Linked DNA regions of Homo sapiens. The protein of the gene in region 1 purifies or fractionates together with the protein of each later gene. This does not show direct contact. Each region holds a gene or a part of one and is shown in the gene's direction. Other genes may lie near its edges.

Region 1 (4,332 bases):
TAGGGCAGTGGTGGGGCGATGGTGAGGTCCACAGTAGGAGCAATGCAGGGCACAGTGTTGGGGGCAGCTGTGGAGATAACAATGGGGCATGGTGAGGGCAGTGCTACCAACAGTCATGGGGGTCACAACAGAGCCACTGAAGCACTGATGGGGCACTGATGGAGTGATTGATGGGAATGGAGGAGAGGGCACTGATGGAGTGATTGATGGTAACGGTAGGGGGGCACTGATGGAGTGATTGATGGGGACGGTGGTGGGGGCACAGACGGAGTGATTTATGGGAATGGTGGGGGGCATTGATGGAGTGATTGATGGGAATGGTTGGGGGTCACTGATGGAGTCATTGATGGGAATGGTGGGGGGGCACTGATGGAGTGATTGATAGGAACGGTGGGGGGTCACTGATGGGGTGATTGATGGGAATGGTGGTGGGGGTCACTGATGGAGTGATTGTTGGGAATGGTGGGGGGCACTGATGCAGTGATCGATGGGAATGGTGATGGGAGCACTGATGGGGTGACTGATGGGAATAGTGGGGGGCACTGATGGAGTGATTGATGAGAACAGTGGTCGGAGCACTGATGGAGTGATTGATGGGAATGGTGATGGGGGCACTGATGGAGTGATTGATGGGAATGGTGGGGGGGCACTGATGGAGTGATTGATGGGGACGGTGGTGGGGGTAGTGATGGAGAGAGTTGACGGACCCATAGTCAGGATGGCTGCTGGCTTTGTCACTGAGTAGTTGGGTTATGTACTCAAATTACTTCACCTCTCTGAGGCTTAGTTTCCTCATCGGCAATATTGAACAATAATAGTGCCTGCCCCACTGGGTTGCCGTGAGGACCCAATAAGGCAATGCTTATGGAGGGCCCTGCTCGGTGCTGGTACAGAGGACCTGATGAATCCCAGCACTGACCTTCCCATCCACCTGTTTAGATTCCAAATTTCAGAGGGACCTGGTGACCCTGAGAACAGATTTTAGCAACTTCACCTCAAACACTGTGGCGGAGATCCAGGCACTGACTTCCCAGGGTGAGTCTGGTTTGGATGGGGCTCTGGGCTGGGGCCAGGCCAGGGAGGAGGAAGTTGACCCCTAAGCCAAGTCTCCGTGTCCTCCAGGCAGCAGCTTGGAAGAAACGATAGCATCTCTGAAAGCTGAGGTGGAGGGTTTCAAGCAGGAACGGCAGGCAGGTGAGAGACCCTCCGAGTATGGGTGTGGGGGGCTAGGCGCTCAGACACAGTGGAGGTGGGAACAGACTCCTGGTGCTGAACTGCCCTCCCCTTCAGCCAGCAGCTTGAAAGGCAGCATGCAGGCCGGGCGCAGTGGTTCACGCCTGTAATCCCAGCAGTTTGGGAGGCCGAGGCGGGTGGATCACGAGGTCAGGAGTTCGAGAGCAGCCTGATCGACATGGTGAAACCCCGTCTCTACTAAAAAAAATACAAAAAATAGCTGGGTGTGGTGGTGGGCGCCTGTAATCTCAGCTACTAGGGAGGCTGAGGCAGGAGAATTGCTTGAACACGGGAGGCGGAGGTAGCCGTGAGCCGAGATCGCGCCATTGCACTCCAGCCTGGGCAGCAAGAGTGAAACTCCGTCTCAAAAAAAAAAAAAAAAAAAAGAAAGAAAGAAAGAAAGGCAGCATGCTTTCTCTGGAGAGCAGGCTGGAGAAACAGGGGCAGAGGAATCCAAAGCAGATTTGATGGCTGTACCTGGCCATGATGTAGGGGGTGGGTGGGGGCGGGAAGGAACATTCCCTGGCTTGGCCCTGTGCAGGGGTATCTGAGCTCCAGGAACACACTACGCAGAAGGCACACCTAGGCCACTGTCCCCACTGCCCATCTGTGTGTGTCCCAGTTCATTCTGAAATGCTCCTGCGAGTCCAGCAGCTGGTGCAAGACCTGAAGAAACTGACCTGCCAGGTGGCTACTCTCAACAACAATGGTGAGGAAGGTATGGGGAGTACCTGGCCCTACTTTTCTGCCCATGGCCCACTGGGCAGAGCCTCAGCCTCTCCACCCTATCCTATTTCTCCCCAATCAGCCTCCACTGAAGGGACCTGCTGCCCTGTCAACTGGGTGGAGCACCAAGACAGCTGCTACTGGTTCTCTCACTCTGGGATGTCCTGGGCCGAGGCTGAGAAGTACTGCCAGCTGAAGAACGCCCACCTGGTGGTCATCAACTCCAGGGAGGAGCAGGTGAGGGCTTCTGGTACTCAGTTCCTAAGACATGTCCCATTTAGGGAAATGGTTCTTAAGCTTGGCCGCACATTGGAATCATCTGGGAGCTTCCAGAATGACTGTCATCTGTGCCACACCCTCAGAGATTTAATAGGCCTGAGCATCCAGAGAAACATCTCCAAACTCCTCAGTTGATTTAACGAAGAGCTAAAGTTGAGAATCACTAGTTTAAGGAGTTGGCTGGGATGGGAAGAAGTCACCACTGCCCTTCTGTCACCGCAGAATTTTGTCCAGAAATATCTAGGCTCCGCATACACCTGGATGGGCCTCAGTGACCCTGAAGGAGCCTGGAAGTGGGTGGATGGAACAGACTATGCGACCGGCTTCCAGTGAGTGCACCCTGGCTTTCTGTGCCAATGTCCTCCGTCAGCGTTTCCCCCAGGGATCTGACTGGCAGCCTCTCCTCCCCTGAACTGAATTCTACTCCATCTACCCTTCCTAGCTTGCTGTTGTCTTTTCCTCTCAGGAACTGGAAGCCAGGCCAGCCAGACGACTGGCAGGGGCACGGGCTGGGTGGAGGCGAGGACTGTGCTCACTTCCATCCAGACGGCAGGTGGAATGACGACGTCTGCCAGAGGCCCTACCACTGGGTCTGCGAGGCTGGCCTGGGTCAGACCAGCCAGGAGAGTCACTGAGCTGCCTTTGGTGGGACCACCCGGCCACAGAAATGGCGGTGGGAGGAGGACTCTTCTCACGACCTCCTCGCAAGACCGCTCTGGGAGAGAAATAAGCACTGGGAGATTGGAAGCACTGCTAACATTTTGAATTTTTTTCTCTTTAATTTTAAAAAGATGGTATAGTGTTCTTAAGCTTTTATTTTTTTTCCAACTTTTGAAAGTCAACTTCATGAAGGTATAATTTTTACATAATAAAAATGCACTCATTTAAAGAGTAGAGATGACTTTGACAAATATGCATGCCTAGGTGACTACCACTCCGATCGCAATAGATAACATTGCCATCGCCCCCACCAGTCCCCTCATGCCTCTGGGCAGTCCAACCACTTCCCTGTTTCCAGGCCAGTGATCTACTTCTTTTTCACTATTTATTGGCCTTGCCTCTTCTAGAGCTTCTAGAACTTCATATAAGTGAAATCATACACTCTCGTGTATATACTTCATATAAGTGAATATATACTCTCGTGAGAACTTACGTACTTTGTGTTGCTTGATTTTTGGCAATCTAAAAATGGCAGAGTGGAGAAGCCAGGTGAAGCCTTCGAAAGTCCTATGTGATTGAGAAAATAGCATTTTCTTCTCATATAGATTTGAGTTCAAATCTTTTCTGTCACTTAAAGATGGTATAAACTTAGGGTGATTAGGAAAAGCCATTGTTTAATTTCTCTGAAGATCCCAGAGTTGTTGGGAGATGTAGATAAGATCCCCAGGTGTATTGGTTAGCAATTGGTGTGTAACAAACCACCTCAAAGCTCAGGGCTTATACAGTAAGCATTTATTATAGCTCATGAGGCTATAGGTCTGGTCTGGCCAGGTTTGGGTCATCTTGGCTGGGCTTGTTTATGCGTCCGTGGTCAGCTGGTGGGTTGGCTTGGGGTTGGCTGGTCTAGGGTAGCCTTGCTCCCATGTCTCATATTTGGCTGGCTCTGGGCTGGGACAATGGGGATGACTGGGCCACATTAGCTTAGCCTGGCCTTGTTCACAGAATGGCTGGGTGGGGGTCCAAGAGAGAAATTGGAAGACTGCAAGGACTTCAGAGCCTTGCTTGGAACTGAAGCATCGTTTTTGCTGCATCCTATTGGCCAAAGCAGATTGCAAGGCTGCCCAGGTTCAAGGGCCAGAGAAATAGATTCCACATTTTGGTGGGGGGTTGGGGGGGGGTCTACAAAGTCATACTGTGTAGAGAATGGATATAGAGAGGGGTGGAGATTTCTGTTTTTTCAATCAATCCAGCATATACCAGGGAAGCATCTCAGCTATTTTGATTTTTTTTTTTTTTTTTTTTTTTGAGACGGGAATTTCCTTCTTGTTGCCCAGGCTGGAGTGCAATGGCGTCATCTCAGCTCACTGCAACCTCCGCCTCCCAGGTTCAAGTGATTCTCCTGCCTCAGCCTTCCGAGTAGCTGGGATTACAGGA
Region 2 (3,769 bases), on another chromosome or scaffold:
ATTTTATTGTTATTATACTTTAAGTTTTAGGGTACATGTGTACAATGTGCAGGTTAGTTACATATGTATACATGTGCCATGCTAGTGTGCTGCACCCATTAACTCGTCATTTAGCATTAGGTATATCTCCTAATGCTATCCCTCTCCCCTCCCCCCACCCCACAACAGTCCCCAGAGTGTGATGTTCCCCTTCCTGTGTCCATGTGTTCTCATTGTTCAATTCCCATCTATGAGTGAGAACATGTGGTGTTTGGTTTTTTGTCCTTGCGATAGTTTACTGAGAATGATGATTTCCAATTTCATCCATGTCCCTACAAAGGACATGAACTCATCCTTTTTTATGGCTGCATAGTATTCCATGGTGTATATGTGCCACATTTTCTTAATCCAGTCTATCATTGTTGGACATTTGGGTTGGTTCCAAGTCTTTGCTATTGTGAATAGTGCTGCAATAAACATACGTGTGCATGTGTCTTTATAGCAGCATGATTTATAGTCCTTTGAGTATATACCCAGTAATGGGATGGCTGGGTCAAATGGTATTTCTAGTTCTAGATTCCTGAGGAATCGCCACACTGACTTCCACAATGGTTGAACTAGTTTACAGTCCCACCAACAGTGTAAAAGTGTTCCTATTTCTCCACATCCTCTCCAGCACCTGTTGTTTCCTGACTTTTTAATGATCGCCATTCTAACTGGTGTGAGATGGTATCTCATTGTGGTTTTGATTTGCATTTCTCTGATGGTCAGTGATGGTGAGCATTTTTTCATGTGTTTTTTGGCTGCATAAATGTCTTCTTTTGAGAAGTGTCTGTTCATGTCCTTTGCCCACTTTTTGATGGGGTTGTTTGTTTTTTTCTTGTAAATTTGTTTGAGTTCATTGTAGATTCTGGATATTAGCCCTTTGTCAGATGAGTAGGTTGCGAAAATTTTCTGCCATTTTGTAAGTTGCCTGTTCACTCTGATGGTAGTTTCTTTTGCTGTGCAGAAGCTCTTGAGTTGAATTAGATCCCATTTGTCAATTTTGTCTTTTGTTGCCATTGCTTTTGGTGTTTTAGACATGAAGTCCTTGCCCATGCCTATGTCCTGAATGGTAATGCCTAGGTTTTCTTCTAGGGTTTTTATGGTTTTAGGTCTGACATGTAAGTCTTTAATCCATCTTGAAATAATTTTTGTATAAGGTGTAAGGAAGGGATCCAGTTTCAGCTTTCTACATATGGCTAGCCAGTTTTCCCAGCACCATTTATTCAATAGGGAATCCTTTCCCCATTGCTTGTTTTTCTCAGGTTTGTCAAAGATCAGATAGCTGTAGACATGCGGCGTTATTTCTGAGGGCTCTTTTGTGTTCCATTGATCTATATCTCTGTTTTGGTACCAGTACCATGCTGTTTTGGTTATTGTAGCCTTGTAGTATAGTTTGAAGTCAGGTAGCATGATGCCTCCAGCTTTGTTCTTTTGGCTTAGGATTGACTTGGCGATGCGGGCTCTTTTTTGGTTCCATATGAACTTTAAAGTAGTTTTTTCCAATTCTGTGAAGAAAGTCATTGGTAGCTTGATGGGGATGGCATTGAATCTATAAATTACCTTGGGCAGTATGGCCATTTTCACGATATTGATTCTTCCTATCCATGAGCATGGAATGTTCTTCCATTTGTTTGTATCCTCTTTTATTTCATTGAGCAGTGGTTTGTAGTTCTCCTTGAAGAGGTCCTTCACGTCCCTTGTAAGTTGGATTCCTAGGTATTTTGTTCTCTTTGAAGCAATTGTGAATGGGAGTTCACTCATGATTTGGCTCTCTGTTTGTCTGTTATTGGTGTATAAGAATGCTTGTGATTTTTGTACATTGATTTTGTATCCTGAGACTTTGCTGAAGTTGCTTATCAGCTTAAGGAGATTTTGGGCTGAGACAATGGGGTTTTCTAGATATACAATCATGTCATCTGCAAACAGGGACAATTTGACTTCCTCTTTTCCTAATTGAATACTTTTTACTTCCTTCTCCTGCCTAATTGCCCTGGCCAGAACTTCCAACACTATGTTGAATAGGAGTGGTGAGAGAGGGCATCCCTGTCTTGTGCCAGTTTTCAAAGGGAATGCTTCCAGTTTTTGCCCATTCAGTATGATATTGGCTGTGGGTTTGTCATAGATAGCTCTTATTATTTTGAGATACGTCCCATCAATACCTGATTTATTGAGAGTTTTTAGCATGAAGCGTTGTTGAATTTTGTCAAAGGCCTTTTCTGCATCTATTGAGATAATCATGTGGTTTTTGTCTTTGGTTCTGTTTATATGCTGGATTACATTGATTGATTTGCGTATATTGAACCAGCCTTGCATCCCAGGGATGAAGCCCACTTGAACATGGTGGATAAGCTTTTTGATGTGCTGCTGGATTTGGTTCGCCAGTATTTTATTGAGGATTTTTATTTTTAATTTTTTGTTTTGTTTTTTGAGGCGAAGTCTCGCTCCGTTGCCAGGCTGGAGGGCAGTGGCACGATCTCGACTCACTGCAACCTCCGCCTCCCAGGTTTAAGCAATTCTCCTGTCTCAGCAGGAGTGGTTGGGATTACAGGCACATGCTGGCATGCCTGTATTTTTGTATTTTTAGTAGAGACGGGGTTTCACCATGTTGGCCAGGATGGTCTCAATCGCTTGACCTCATGATCCGCCCGCCTCGGCCTCCCAAAGTGCTGGGATTACAGGCGTGAGCCACTGCACCCGGCCTACATTTTAATTTTTACAAAAAACTCTTAAACTTTTTTGTGAGCAGAAATTCTCAAGTATCGAAGCGTGGTGTTTTAGGCTCCAGAAGAAATCCACTATTACAGTGTCCTAGTAGCCCAGACATATGTGTTAAATGACATGTATATACTTTGTTATTCTTTCTAATAAATAATACTCTTTTACAACTCTGCCTTCTGAGTGTCTCTTCCAACTCCCTATCACATGTTCTACTTACCAGTTAATGGCTGCCACATCCAGTTTGGAATGACCAAAGCAACAACAAACATCTGAGGGTGAACAGAGGTTATCTTTTTTCCTTATCCCTATTGCTGGAACAGAATGCCAAGACATGACATGTATGGCTTCCCAGGAAAGGAGAAGTGGGAAAACCAAGATCAAGACCAACCTCTGCCTCCAAGCTGTATTTTTCTTCTTTCTGTTGGCTTGACTATTGTGTAAGTTAGAATTATCGAATAAACTCTGCAGAAGCCTGCTAGCGATCCAAAACATATTTATGTTTATTAAATTTGAGTTATCTTTTCAGCAATTAAAGTTTATCATTTAATCTTTAATTGACTTAGTTGGAAATTTCTTTGCCAGTTTTCCAAAACACCATAGAATACAGTAACTTGTATCATAAAACCATGGACCTTTTTTGCTATTGGTTTCCCCCAGTATTATAAGAGGCTAGTTTATAGTCTATTTTTAATGTGAGGTGTTTAACGTAAGAAAATTTTATATACAATGTACTTATTAATACCACAGTTAAGACAAACACTTTAAAAGATTTTTCTGGGAGTAGCAGGATATGTAATGACATTATCCATATTTGAAAATATGTACCATCTACTGAATGCCCTTCTCTGGTCTGTCATGATTGTTTCTGTTAATGTTTTCCTCATTTTTTAGGTATAAAATTCTAAAAATAGTCATGATTAGTTTTTCCATGAGGCCACAGCACCAGGTAGCCACAGCAGGCTACTTCTGAAGGACCCTAAGTCATAATTTTTTAATATATTTTCTGTTTTAAAGGGCACAAGAGTTA
Region 3 (4,617 bases), on another chromosome or scaffold:
ACTCAGGTGAGGTAGAGGAAGCCTGGATCCATAGCCTTGGAAATTGTAGGACATAAGGTTTGAGATTACAATTCAAAGACAAGATGAAAGTGATGAGGGCTGACAAGTAGTCTAGAGATGGGCAAATCAAAAGAATAACTACTGGGGTAGATCTGTTTCGGTTATGTAAGTTAGGAACTCTAAATCAAGGAGCACCCACCCCCCCCCACCAATCTCATATATCCAAAATTATATCTATGTGTCTTTGAAACAGGTTGGATTTATTCTTGTAAATCCCTGGGATTGCGGGATGTTTCAGTGACCAGAGTTCTTGGCAGGATCTTAATCTTTAGGTCTTTGCCCCAAAGATCTTTGAAGTTCCCAGACAGTCTGCAGCTGCAGTATTTTCTCTTTATTTTTCATGGGACCCTTCTAGAAACTGCAGTGTCCTTGATATCACTGCTTTAGATCTCCTTCTCTCTCAAAGTTTCAGAATTATGGCATCTTGCCCAGGCTTATCTAACTGACCTGGATTTTGGTGGAGGAATGAAGACTTTTTCTGTCAATGTTAGGTAAACTTTTCTATACCACAGTCATTAGTACATCTACAAAATTAAGCTCCGAGGATCCAAGCCAGCCACAAGTTCTTCTTGATCCCCCTTTCAGATACATTTCATCACTGTTAATGGATCTGTTATTTGCACAGAACAAACATTTCCAGTTACTTGATTAATTTTACCCCTATTCTTGGTGCAATGCCTTCCCTGTGTGATTTATTCCTGAGAATGTTTTTGTTTTCATTTCCCCAATATCTGTACTTGGGGGATTTGGCAGTAGGTTAGAGGGGCCCTTATTCCTATCTTTTAAAGGATTACTGCTCCAGGACCACCTCCCGCTAGAGCACCAGTTGACAATAATGAGGCTGCCGCTGCCAGCTGATAGCTTTCCCTGATGTCCTACTGTGTCCTGCATTGAGCTTAAACAGGGTCAATTATAATGTAAACTATAGAGGACCCTAGTGCCCAAGGCGCAGACATGGGAATTTAGCAGTGGGGGATTTTGCTTTATCAAAAAAAAAAAAAAAAAAAGTGAATGAATGAACTTAGTGACTCAGCACTTAGTGATTTAGTGATGACTTAAATGACCACCTACTCTGAGCCCAGTAGTGTGCATGAGACACATCAAAAACATCCCTTGTATCTGAATGCTTCCAGCCAAGTTTCCCACTGCCTACTGCTTAAGTGAGGGGCTAGGAGGAGGAAGGCTCAGTGGCCAGTGACCAGGGTGCAAGAGTGACACAGAGCATATTAGCATATTGCATTCTTTGCATCAGGCTATGCCAAACTTCTGGAAGAGACAATTTTGAATTTGTGAGGAGGATAGCCAGGATGGTCCCTGGTCTCAGGTCCCTAAGGAATCCTTTGCCAGGAAGTCATCGAGGACGGATAGAGGCAGCACCAAATGAATTCTTCAGTCCCCACTCAGAATGTGGCCACATTCTGGTGAGTCTGTGAGTGGTACGGGGTAATGGTCCCTGCACTGTGCAGGAATCCCAGCACTTCATTCCAGTGGATTTCTGCCCCCTCCTCTGGGATAGAATGTGTGTCCACTCTCTCCAGAGCCATCCACTCCAGCAGCAGAGCCAGAGCTCACATGGGTATCTCCCACTTCTAAGAGCTGCTTTTCATACCCCCTAGACGTTTTTTGTTTTGTTTTATTCTTGAGACGGAGTCTCGCACTGTTGCCCGGGCTGGAGTGCAATCGCACAATTTTGGCTCACTGCAACCTCCACCTCCCGGGTTCAAGCTATTCTCCTGCCTCAGCCTCCCAAGTAGCTGGGATTACAGACGCCCGCCACCATGCCCTGGGTAATTTTTTATTTTTTATTTTTGTATTTTTAGTAGAGATGGGGTTTTGCTATGTTGGCCAGGCTGGTCTCGAACTCCTGACCTCGTGATCCGCCTGACTTGGCCTCCCAAAGTGCTGGGATTACAGGCATGAGCCACCGCGCCCAGCCTAGACACTGACTCTTAAGTGCTTGGACAGTTGCTATCTCTCTGACTTTTCCTGATCAGCCTTTTTCCATGCCCACACACATCTTTATTACCTTTGCAATCACCAGGAACCCATCATTATCTCTTGTTCCAATCATATCCATGAAGTCATTTGAAGCTGATGGGTGCATGGCAGAATATCTTTTGTGACCCCCAGCCCACCCCACATATAAATACAGCTACTTGCAGACATCTATTTTGGAGATACTTAAAAGGTTCATAAATATCTGAAAAGATGTTTGACATTTTCTGAGACAATATTCTTTGCCACTGGAAGGTTCTATTATACACATTAAAAGCAAAGATACATATTTTTCTTTCTTACCTTCACTTTTTATAAAAGGTTATGCTGACGTAGAACTTACTAACAAAAAAAAAAAAATCTTCCTGATGAAATCAGGATAAATAATTCCACACATCTTCAAGTGGAGAGAAAGGCTTTGAATTGGTTTCCATGGAAATCTGAAGATGAAGTAAAGGAATAATTTCAAGGCAGAGCAGCTGAACTGAAGATAATGGTAAAATAGTTTGATAAAGGAAATAGAATAAAGTAATCAAGAAGACTCCAATCAATTATTCCTTTTTGTTTACCTTTAGGTGATTAATTCGTCTGCGTTTATTAACCTGATGAGATTAAGCAGGCCTTCCTTGTGATTTATTTCGTAATTGTTTCCAAGGTTTGACATAAGCTGTGGAGTTATTGAAGGTGGAGATTTAAATTCAATTACTATGAAGCAGGTGGTGATTCTCCTGAAAGAATATCTGAATTCACGGACTTCCCATGTAACATTATGAGTGAAAATTATTAATTCATCTGATAGTATCTCCCAAAGACTTTTAGAAGTCATTTGGCATCCACATACTTCACCAAAAGTCAGCAGCTTCAGAACTGAACATGTAATGAAGAGAATTCAGTGCCTGGAAAGAAAGGATTTTATTTTAAAGACTAGTTATTTTTATACTTTTTTTTTTAAAACTAGAGGCCCCCTTGGGGCCTGGGCTGTGGTGCTATCATTGATGGAATCCATGAGCTCAAGCTTTGAATGCCAAAAGGATAGCTTTCTTTGAACTTGACCAGTGGTTCCCACTCTCTACCTTTAAAGGGCACAACTGGATAAGATCATACTTTGACAGGAGAGAGAGAGAGAGAGAGAGATTGGCCAGGGGGTGGTGGGGGGATATGCAGGCTGGCCTTGAGAGTCTTTAAATGAAGTGACTAATTGCTTTTTGTCTCTGTGGTCCTTGTTGTGTATATGTTTTCTATTCTTTCTGTGGGTATAGTAAGGATAAACGGGGTTCTCCAAACACTAACGCAGGCGCCAACTCTCCGTCATCCACAAAGACCCGGAACACATCTAAGAGTGGGAAGTAAGTGAAAAAGTGCTCCTGTACATCTGACATAGCTGTCAAAAAGTCAAGTGCTGTCCTCCTTTTGTCATTTATTCATATTCATTCAACAAAGATTTGTGGAATGTCTTCTGTGTGCCTCCCACTGGGCTCGTCACTGGGGAATTGAAACGAGCAAGGCATGTGTCAGTAATATTGGGTGCATGAAGAACTAGGGAAGAGGGAGGAGAGGGATGGAAAAGTCAGGAGATGACTCTGGAAAGATAGCTTAGGGCTGACTGTGAAGGGCAAGGACATAAGTCCATAAGGGCAATGTAAGAGTTGGATTACAAGTTTTAAGAATTAAAGCAGCAGCAGCAGCAGCACTGATTTATGACTTACAAAGTCCATGAAAACCTGTCCTGATCCATACACTGAGTTTAGGCTTGAGTTAGAAGAATCTGGTAAGCTTTTCCATAAATTTCCTGGTTTAAGTACATTTATGTTTTAACCATATCACTGATTTATATGATATGTATATTCTTTTCCTAGTAACTAATATGCACCAAGTCCTACATGAAGCTGTTTTTTTGGTATTACCAAAACTTGTATGGGCTGAATATTTGCGATATTAGATTGACCTTTTCTGGGCTTATTCCAGAAGACAACACCAGCCGATCTCTCCCTTTGGCTTCAGCAAAGTGTGGCAAACTCAGGCAGTGTGATCCCACGCAGATGACATACCTCTAATTAGACACTTCCCCTTGGAAGTTGCTTCAACCCTGTGGTGAATGGCTCGAGTTCTCCGTAAGCTCTCTCTCCAGGGTGTGGGGCATTGTGACACGCAGAAACTCAGTCCAGAAAGAGCACCCAGCCTGCATCTAGGAGAAAATGAAAGATACCTTCATCATGCTAAAAGCTCTAATCTAGCAATAAGATATGTCACTACAAGAGCACAGCTTTGCAATGAAAGGTGAATTTGTAATGGTCATATATTTTATGTATTCAGCATTGGACCGTAAATGCTGCACTTTGAATATGATCTTATATTCAATTCCCAAAGTGAAAGATCTACTGGCTGCCTTTTTTTCCTTCTTTTCCTCTGAATACCATTTCAGGTTTGCATATAAAGTTGAATGCGGGTTATCTTGCAAAATATAAAAAACGGTGTTAAAGACATAAAACTAAATCTCCAAGCAGTTAGAACTCATTTCAGTTATTTATTGCTGAGCACCATAATCAAAATGCTGTATAAATT
Region 4 (4,617 bases), on another chromosome or scaffold:
GCTTCTTGGCAAGACTCCTTTCCTCTTGGTTGTAAGGATGATACGGTCTGCTTCGGAGATGATAAAACTAGTATTGATGTTTATTTATTTGCTTTTACTTGGCAGATTCTCAGCGCTGATTTTGAGATGATGGGCTTGGGAAACGGGCGTCGCAGCATGAAGTCGCCGCCCCTCGTGCTGGCCGCCCTGGTGGCCTGCATCATCGTCTTGGGCTTCAACTACTGGATTGCGAGCTCCCGGAGCGTGGACCTCCAGGTGTTTTGTTTTCTTTATTGTTATGTTTATTTTATGTTTATGTTTTGTTTATTTTGTTATGATGGGGTCCCAGGGGTTTGTTGTTTATTGCCAGCCAGGGCGTTTTGTGCAGGGCACACGCTTGTAAGGTGAGTTTAGGGCTCTGCACACCCCCACAGCCCTGGGCCAGACCCCAAGCAGCTTTGGGTGGGAGAGGTCCCCTCTGTGGTTGTGTAGGATTGCGGTTGTGGTATCCCTCCCTGCCTTTCCTGTGAGTTAACAGCATTCATTTGAGCTACTGGGGTGGTTCTGGGAAGACAGCTTGCTTACATACACTGGCCATAGTCCGTTGTTTGCGGTCCTCCGGCGCCCAAGATATCGAAGAGTAGTATTGGAAGTGTGCTTGGATGATGGGTGTAAGAAATATGTTTTTAAAGGTACCAATCTTTATCTTCATTACTTAATGATAATAATAATTTTAACTTCCTCATTTACCGGTGCAGTCATGGGTCAGGTGCAGTGCTGAGCAGTGACAAAGATGCTCCTCTTGATTGAACTTGAGTCGGGCCCTTCTGAGCCGTCTTCTTGACTAGGCCTTGATCTTGGCACCTCCCAACTCTCACTGCCTGTCTTTGGCCTGCCCAGCCCAGTCCTAGCAAAGGATCCCGCTAAGCCATCCTTCTACCCCTGATCCTTGACCAAGTTCCTCATCCCTACCCTTGCTGTCTAAGTCCTTGGCCTGTGTTTAGCAAGAATCTTGTTAGGCCAGTTTAGCAAGAATCCCCCTACTCTGGGGGCGATTTCCATCCACTGACTCCCCGCACTGTGCTCGTTGGCTATAAATCCCTAGCTGTCTTTGATGTGTTCGGCATTGAGCACAATTTCCCTCTCCTATTGCAATCGTTTTGAATAGTCTTTCTTACCATTTTAATGAATGTCAGAATAATTTCTCTTTCACAGTACTTTATACAAATTATCTCCTTTTGTGCACAAACCCTACAAGGCTGGGACTTGACTTTCCTCATTTCACAGGGGGTCAGACTGAGGCACCAAGAGGTTGAGGTGGAGCAGGGATTCCAACCTGCATGGGCTTAGCCGTGGCACCCCAGCACGTCTGTGCTCTGTCCTGTTCTCACACTTACCCTCCTGGGCTTGTACTCCCTGTGTCTCAGCTTCCACGGGAGTTCCTGTTCTCTGGGCAGATGAGGTCTGCTTGTCTGGAGTTGGAGAACTGAATCTGTTTTCAGAAATTGTATCTGCTAAAGAGTTGTTAAGTGCTTTGTTAGCAGCGAAGAAGAACTAAATATTTGAGCATCATCTTATGCCAGGTAAAGCATGAGGCATTCTGTGCACTTAGCACATTTAAGCCTCACAAAAACCCAGTGGGAAGTGTGGTGTGAGTGCACAGAGCCTTCCTTCACTTACACTGACAGAGACCATTTTTTCCAGAAGAAACCGCTCCAGCTTCTGTCCAGTTGACTTAAAACACAGCCTTGGGCACTTGTGTGTATAAGACTGGTGCTGGCCCTGGGCCCCAAGGTGGTCTTTGTGGAGGGCGCTCAGGTGGTCCAGGCTCCTCAGGTAACTTGGCATCAGCCCTAATGCCACGGTCTCCTTGTAGACACGGATCATGGAGCTGGAAGGCAGGGTCCGCAGGGCGGCTGCAGAGAGAGGCGCCGTGGAGCTGAAGAAGAACGAGTTCCAGGGAGAGCTGGAGAAGCAGCGGGAGCAGCTTGACAAAATCCAGTCCAGCCACAACTTCCAGCTGGAGAGCGTCAACAAGCTGTACCAGGACGAAAAGGCAAGGCCTGCTTTGTTTCCTCTCAGTTCTTTTCTAAGGGATGGTGTCTACATTGTCTGTTTCTTCTTGGCGGGAGGATGAGCAAGCGGCTGGGTTTAGATTTATGTAATTATGTGGAAAGAGCCTATTGATCAAGCTTTGGGCATTCTCTCCCTTTCCCCTCCAAGTCCCTGGCTGGGCTTGCGGTGAAGCCTTTTGCAGTGGTAATAAACAGGAGAAATGCAGAAGAACAATTTCAGATTCATCCTCCTATTGGCTTTTTTTTTTCTCCTATTGGGTTTTTTCTTCCCACTTTCCACAAACATGTATTAAATACCTACTCTGTGCCAGGCCTATGCCAGGTGCTTATATCTCAGAGAAAAATAATATTTGTGCCCTCCAAGTATCTAATGGAGGAGAGGAGAGGCAGACTCTACTAAATACTAACAGAGAAAGTAGGGGACTGCACCCTTGCTTTTAAGCTAGGAAAAAAACCAACAAATCCTGCGTAGATTTAAAGGGGCCTTCCTGCTAATTAAAATATCTAAGCTTTATGTGTCTTTTTTTTTTTTTTTGAGATGGAGTTTGGCTCTGTCGCCCAGGCTGGAGTGCAATGGTGCAATCTTGGCTCACTCTGCCTCCCGGGTTCAAGCGATTCTCCTGCCTCAGCCTCCTGAGTAGCTGCGATTACAGGTGCCTGCCACCACGCCCAGCTAATTTTTATATTTTTAGTAGAGATGGGGTTTTCACCATTTTGGCCAGGATGGTTTCGATCTCTTGACCTCGTGATCCACCTGCCTCAGCCTCCCAGAGTGCTAGGATTACAGGCATGAGCCACCGTGCCCGGCCTGGTTTTCTTATGTAGGAATATATGACTATACTTTCTTTATTAAATTGTGTAACTGTGTGAGTTACTAATATCTCCTGTCCCAGAGTGCATCAAACTTTGGCCTCTATTATTAACTAGAAAAATTTGGCTTTTTTTTTTTTTTTTTTTTTTTTTTTTTTTTTGAGATGGGGTTTCCCTCTTGTTGTCCAGGCTGGAGTGCAATGGCGCCCTCTTGGCTCACTGCAACCTCTGCTTCCCGGGTTCAAGCAATTCTCCTGCCTCAGCCTCCCAAGTAGCTGGGACTACAGGCATGTGCCACCACGCCCAGCTAATTTTTTGTATTTTTTAGTAGTGATGGGATTTCGCCATGTTGGTCAGGTTGGTCTCGAACTCCTGACCTCAGGTGATGTACCCGTCTTGGCCTCCCAAAGTGCTGAGATTACAGGCATGAGCCACCGCACCTGGCCTGAAAAATTTGGCTTTTATAATGCGTGTACCTCTCTCTCTGGAGTGGCTAATTTATTGGAAGAATGTTGTAGCTCAACTTCCATTATCTTGAATTGTCTCAGAAAATGAATTATTTCCAGGAAGGGACTCAGACTTTTCTCGCATAACTGATTTAAAATTCAAGAAGTACTTTTTTTGTTGTTTAATTTGCAGAGTACTTTCCTATATTTGCAAGCTCATATTTCTTCTCTGGGAATTGTGCATAATGTTGTTGTAATAAAGTGCTTCTTTATGTTTCTTCCCTTTTCTTACTGGTGAGATATGCTTTTTGTGCTCCTGAAATCCCCTTTAACCTCATCTCTCAAAAAGAAAAAGAAAAAAAAGAGCATCAAGTAGTTATTTGAAAAGAGAATCTGTTTCCACAGTTTTTCTCTTTTAGAATATGCGATATAAATGTCTTTTCATTTTGGTGAGCAAGGGTGGGTTCTCACATCAAACCTTAGCTGCAGGAGGATTTTAGCTGTGGTTTGGTGGTAGGAGGCATGGAACTTGTGAGTCAGGCAGACCCGGGTTTAAAGTTCCCTCAGCTGTGTGATTTTAGGCAAGTCACTTAAATTCTCTGGATCTGTTTTCTCAACTGTCAAGTGGAAATGAGAAAGGAATCTCACAGGGTGCCTGTGAGGATTGAATGAGATAATATTTATAAAGCGTTTAACCCAGTGCTCAACCTAGAATGAAAGCTCAGCAGCTGGTGGTTGGTATTATTACACCTAATTGTACCAACGGCAGTCGAGGCCATGATCACAGCAGCAGTGGTGGGCGCAGTCGTAAGCCACCGCAGCAGCGGTGATAATGTTATCTCTTTCTGTATGGACTTTGTCTTAGTCTGTTTAAGGCTGCTATAACAAAATATCATAAACTGAGCAGCGTATAAACAACAAGTATTTATTCTCACAGGTCTGGAGGCTGGGAAGTCAGAGATCAAGACGGGGCAGATTCATCTGGTGAGGGCCCACTTCCAGGTTCATGGATGCCTTCTTCTTGCGGTGTCCTTGCCTGGTGGAAGGGGCAAGGCAGCTCTCTGGGGCCTCTTTTATGGCACTAATCCCATGTATGAGGGCTTGACTCTCCCAGAGGTCTCGGCTCCTAACATTATCGCCTCCATTTGGTATTTGGTGATTTGGTTTCAATGTGTGGATTTTGAAGGACACCCACACTCAGACCGTAGCAGATTTTTTTTTTCCTCCCAAATTGAAACCATGAAACCAAATTGTGCTAGCTTTAAAAAGAGTTAGGAAGACACTGAGGGAGGTGGAACCAAGAGCAA
Region 5 (4,178 bases), on another chromosome or scaffold:
AACTTTCCCTGAAGTGTGATTCTAGTGTATATTTACCTTGCCTGTAGAATACATCTAATCAGGACAGTCTGAAGTCTCTCTGGCACTAAGTCATGAGATGCCAACATCCTTCTGTACTTGAGCTCTTTGAGTTGGCTGGTAGTAATTTCTTCCTTTCTTTCTTTCTTTTTTTTGAGACAGTCTCGCTCTGTCACCCAGGCTGGAGTACAGTGGCATGATCTTGGCTCACTGCAACCTCCATCTCCCAGGTTCAAGCAATTCTCTTGTCTCAGCCTCCCGAGTAGCTGGGACTACAGGTGCCTGCCACCACGCCCGGCTAATGTTTGTATTTTTAATAGAGATGGGGTTTCACCATATTGGTCAGGCTGGTCTCGAACTCCTGACCTCAGGTGATCCACCCGCCTCGGCCTCCTAAAGTGCTGGGATTACAGGTGTGAGCCACCACACCTGGCCAGTAATTTCTTGACCTTAAGCCCACCCTCTCTGTCCTTATAGCATCCAAGGGTTGGGATTTGCTACTTAGTGCTATCAACTGACTTGCTACTCTTGGGAATAAGGACTCCCCAGAGTGGGAGATGTGTGCCTACCACCCGCTGTGATTTCTTTCCCAATGGTTTTCAGAATATATCTCTGTTTTAATGGAGGAAGAAATATAGCTATTGGGAAAAAGTGTGAGTGGGGTTAAAAGAGCTTTAAAAATTGATAAATGAAAACACCTCTCTGGTGGCATATTAGAAACTTCTTGGGTTCGAATGCTTTGTATTGGGGTCATTTTCACAATGTGTTTCCCCCCTCATCGCCGAGACATCTTGCTCTGTCACCCAGGCTGGAGTGCGGTGGCGCGATCTTGGCTCACTGCATCCTCTGTCTCCTGGGTTCAAGCAATTCTCCTGCCTCAGCCACCCGAGTAGCTGGGATTACAGGCGCATGCCACCATGCCCACCTAATTTTTTTGTATTTTAGTAGAAATGGGGTTTCACCATGTTGGCTAGGCTGGTCTTGAATTGGCTGGTCTCAAACTCCTGACCTCATGATCTGCCTGCCTTGGCCTCCCAAAGTGCTGGGATTACAGGCGTGACACAATGTTTTTTTAAGAGGACAAGGGCATGAATTATTAGAGTCTTTTGGGACCAACATATTTCAAATGATGTGTTCTAAGGGGTGTTTATACAGTGAGTAATTATCTTAGGTCCTTCTTCACAAGTAGCAAAAGGAAATTGTTCACATTTAAAAGAAGGAAGCAATCTATCAAATCTTATTGTACTTTTTAATGGAAAATGTTCATATTTATGGTGTTAAGATAATAGTCTTATGTTGGCATAGCATTTTTCTTTTTACAAAGCTTCCTTCTTCCCTCCCCTCCCCTCCCCTCCCCTCTTCTTCCCTTCCCTTCCCTCCTTCTTTCCTTCCTTCTCTTTATTAAATTGAGATGGAGTCTCACTCTGTCACCCATGCTGGAGTGCAGTGGCACAATCTTGGCTCACTGCAACCTCCACCTCCCAGGTTCAAGTAATTCTCCTGCCTCAGTCTCCCGAGTAGGTGGGACTGCAGGTGTGCAGCACCATGCCTGGCTAATTTTTGTATGTTTAGGAGAGATGAGGTTTCACCGTATTGCTCAGGCTGTTCTCAAACTCCTGACCTGAGGTGACCTGCCTGCCTCGGCCTCCCGAAGTGCTGGGATTACAGTCGTGAGCCACTGCGCCCGGCCTTACAAAGCACTTTCATGGGTGCTGCTCATTCAGTGGTGTGGTTTAGATGTCTTTTGTATTCACCTGTTACTTTCATTTTTTTTTTGTTTGAGACGGAGTTTTGCTCTTGTTTCCAGGCTGCAGTGCAATGGTGCGATCTCAGCTCACCACAACCTCTGCCTCCCGGGTTCAAGCGATTCTCCTGCCTCAGCCTCACTAGTAGCTGGGATTACAGGTGCCCGCCACCATGCCCGGCTAATTTTTTTGTATTTTTAGTAGAGGCAGGGTTTCTCCATGTTGGTCAGGCTGGTCTTGAACTCCCAATATCAGGTGATCCACCCACCTCGGCCTCCCAAAGTGTTGGGATTACAGGCGTGAGCCACCGCGCCTAGCTCACCTGTTGCTTTCTATTTCGTGAATACTAAAGTACCCTATTAAATGATGACTAGTTAATTTTATAAAGAAATCTTACTAAAGTGAAAACCAAACAAACTCTTTTTCCAGTAGGAGAGAAGTTTGCTGAGGAATGCCTTCAAGCACAAAGTGATGAATGACTGCCTTCAAGTCTCAAGAAAACACTTTTCCCTAACTTTTAGAGATATTTCAGCCCTTTCCTGTGGCCTGGTCCTATAGCCAAAATCACAGATATTCATGAGTTTCTACTTGAGTGAGAAAACTGGGTGAAGGAATAGAATTTTAAATAGTAATAACTGCTTGTTTTTTTTGTGCAAGTACTTTTATACATAAGATAAACAAAAACCTTACCACCAAACATACCAAAATGCACCTCTTTCATAAGTGAGTTACTAAGATTTCTATACCTGGAATATCATGTATGTTTCATTTACTGGATGTTTACATTTTAGGAAGGAAAATAGTTTTGTTTATTTAAACAACTGAATACTTATAAACTGTTGTTCCTGGAAGTTATTTATTCCATAAAAAATTTGTTCTTTTGTCATGAATTTATAATTCCTAAATGAAGACCAGAAAGTACAAATTGCTGGGAGGAAGAATAGGCTTTATTAATCAACTGATGTCTTGATTTTTCTAAATGGGAAGATTGCTTTATTTTTAACACTAATTATGGGAGCAGATTCTTAGCAAACTTCTTTGGAAAAGTTAATGTTATGATGTGCATTAGGCTGCCCCATCGTGTATATAAATGAAGCAGATTTGATTTTTGTATTCTTACGTTTCTCTGCTTTGTAGTTGTGGCTGTACTTAAAGAAATACAGAATTTCATATATTTAAAAATGTTTAAAATGTGACCCACAGAACATTGTAAATGATTAAAAACTAACATGAAAATATTACAACCTAAAAGAATTCTTAACTTCACAAGTGTTTTACTTCGACGATGTGCCTTTGATTTAATTTGGGACACTTTTTTAGAAGGATACATTATTCGTGTTTGCAACGGTCTTTGAAGAGCTTGGAAATAAAATTTCTGCTTAATTAATCATTTTTCTATGACAGCAATATTTTGTGTCTGATTTTGTATTAAGGACTCAAGGATTTCTGTTTGCCTGTGAGATTGAGTGCTGGAATGAGAGAGTGAAATTGTTGTTTTTAAGTCTTTGTAGAATTTTGCAAATGTCCTGAAAAATAGATAACTGTATAACATGAAGAAAATATCTCTATTAATGGCAACATTTGTTCTCTGAAATAGCTATATATAAACTCATAAATAAACAAAAATATCTGTGAGTGTAAGTAGTGTTACAATAGAGAAAATAGAAGTTATTAGATGGGAACTCCCTTAACTTTTAGCTACTAAACTTCTAGATCTAGTGATTGGAATCCCTTCCATTCAGTCATAATTCAGGCATCCCTTTTATAACCTATTTGTTCTCTGGATCTGTTTCACCTTCTCTGAAATTGCACACTACCAGTGATCCTTTCTCCTTCATCTTCAAGTTCTCTGCTGGATGCTTTATTTTCTCTTTTCTTCTCTTCTCTTTTCTTTTTTGAGACAGGGTCTCACTTTGTCACCCAGGCTGGAGTGCAGTGGCGCTATCTCGGCTCACTGCAGCCTCAATCTCCTAGGTTCAAGTGTTCTTCCCACCTCTGGCCCCCAAGTAGCTGGGACTACAGGCGTGAACCATCACACCCGACTAATTTTTGTATTTTTTGTAGAGATGGGATTTCGCCATGTCGCCAGGCTGGTCTTGAACTCCTGAGCTCAAGCCATCCACCCACCTCAGCCTCCCAAAGTTCTGGGATTATAGGCGTGAGCCACTGTGTCTGGCCTCCAGTGGACCCTTTCTATCACAATTTAGCATGTTCCATTCTGTCTTAACAACAACAGCATTTTTTAAAATCCTCATTGAAAAACAAAATTCTTTTTTGATTCCACTTTCCCCTTTCAGCAAACATTTGGTAAGATAGCACAATGAAACTATAAGCATCTCACTTATAGATGAATATAGATGCAAATGTCCTAGATATAAACAGATAAAATTCAGTAGTTAGAGAAAGTACAGCCGG

What was found.
Region 2: the proteins of CLEC10A (region 1) and FAM241A purify together in Homo sapiens (affinity purification with mass spectrometry; 3 studies listed by BioGRID and IntAct, with this or other methods). This does not show direct contact.
Region 3: the proteins of CLEC10A (region 1) and HS6ST2 purify together in Homo sapiens (affinity purification with mass spectrometry; one large-scale study listed by BioGRID and IntAct). This does not show direct contact.
Region 4: the proteins of CLEC10A (region 1) and GOLM1 purify together in Homo sapiens (affinity purification with mass spectrometry; one large-scale study listed by BioGRID and IntAct). This does not show direct contact.
Region 5: the proteins of CLEC10A (region 1) and GNG10 purify together in Homo sapiens (affinity purification with mass spectrometry; one large-scale study listed by BioGRID and IntAct). This does not show direct contact.

Annotation. Positions count from the first base shown.
Region 1 is NC_000017.11:7,073,595-7,077,926, reverse strand, and holds the end of CLEC10A (C-type lectin domain family 10 member A), read left to right. Parts: intron 1-939; coding exon 940-1,035; intron 1,036-1,122; coding exon 1,123-1,194; intron 1,195-1,774; coding exon of another isoform or gene 1,775-1,855; coding exon 1,856-1,942; coding exon of another isoform or gene 1,943-1,951; intron 1,952-2,041; coding exon 2,042-2,196; intron 2,197-2,460; coding exon 2,461-2,567; intron 2,568-2,704; coding exon 2,705-2,873; 3' UTR 2,874-3,390; downstream 3,391-4,332. UniProt on the Homo sapiens protein: C-type lectin receptor involved in recognition of N-acetylgalactosamine (GalNAc)-terminated glycans by myeloid antigen presenting cells (APCs).
Region 2 is NC_000004.12:112,192,348-112,196,116, forward strand, and holds the end of FAM241A (uncharacterized protein FAM241A), read left to right. Parts: 3' UTR 1-2,909; downstream 2,910-3,769.
Region 3 is NC_000023.11:132,667,897-132,672,513, reverse strand, and holds part of HS6ST2 (heparan-sulfate 6-O-sulfotransferase 2), read left to right. Parts: intron 1-2,625; exon of another isoform or gene 2,626-2,951; intron 2,952-3,314; coding exon 3,315-3,401; intron 3,402-4,103; exon of another isoform or gene 4,104-4,240; intron 4,241-4,617. UniProt on the Homo sapiens protein: 6-O-sulfation enzyme which catalyzes the transfer of sulfate from 3'-phosphoadenosine 5'-phosphosulfate (PAPS) to position 6 of the N-sulfoglucosamine residue (GlcNS) of heparan sulfate.
Region 4 is NC_000009.12:86,074,830-86,079,446, reverse strand, and holds part of GOLM1 (Golgi membrane protein 1), read left to right. Parts: intron 1-105; 5' UTR 106-126; coding exon 127-255; intron 256-1,855; coding exon 1,856-2,035; intron 2,036-4,617.
Region 5 is NC_000009.12:111,667,077-111,671,254, forward strand, and holds the end of GNG10 (guanine nucleotide-binding protein G(I)/G(S)/G(O) subunit gamma-10), read left to right. Parts: intron 1-2,192; 3' UTR 2,193-3,150; downstream 3,151-4,178. UniProt on the Homo sapiens protein: Guanine nucleotide-binding proteins (G proteins) are involved as a modulator or transducer in various transmembrane signaling systems.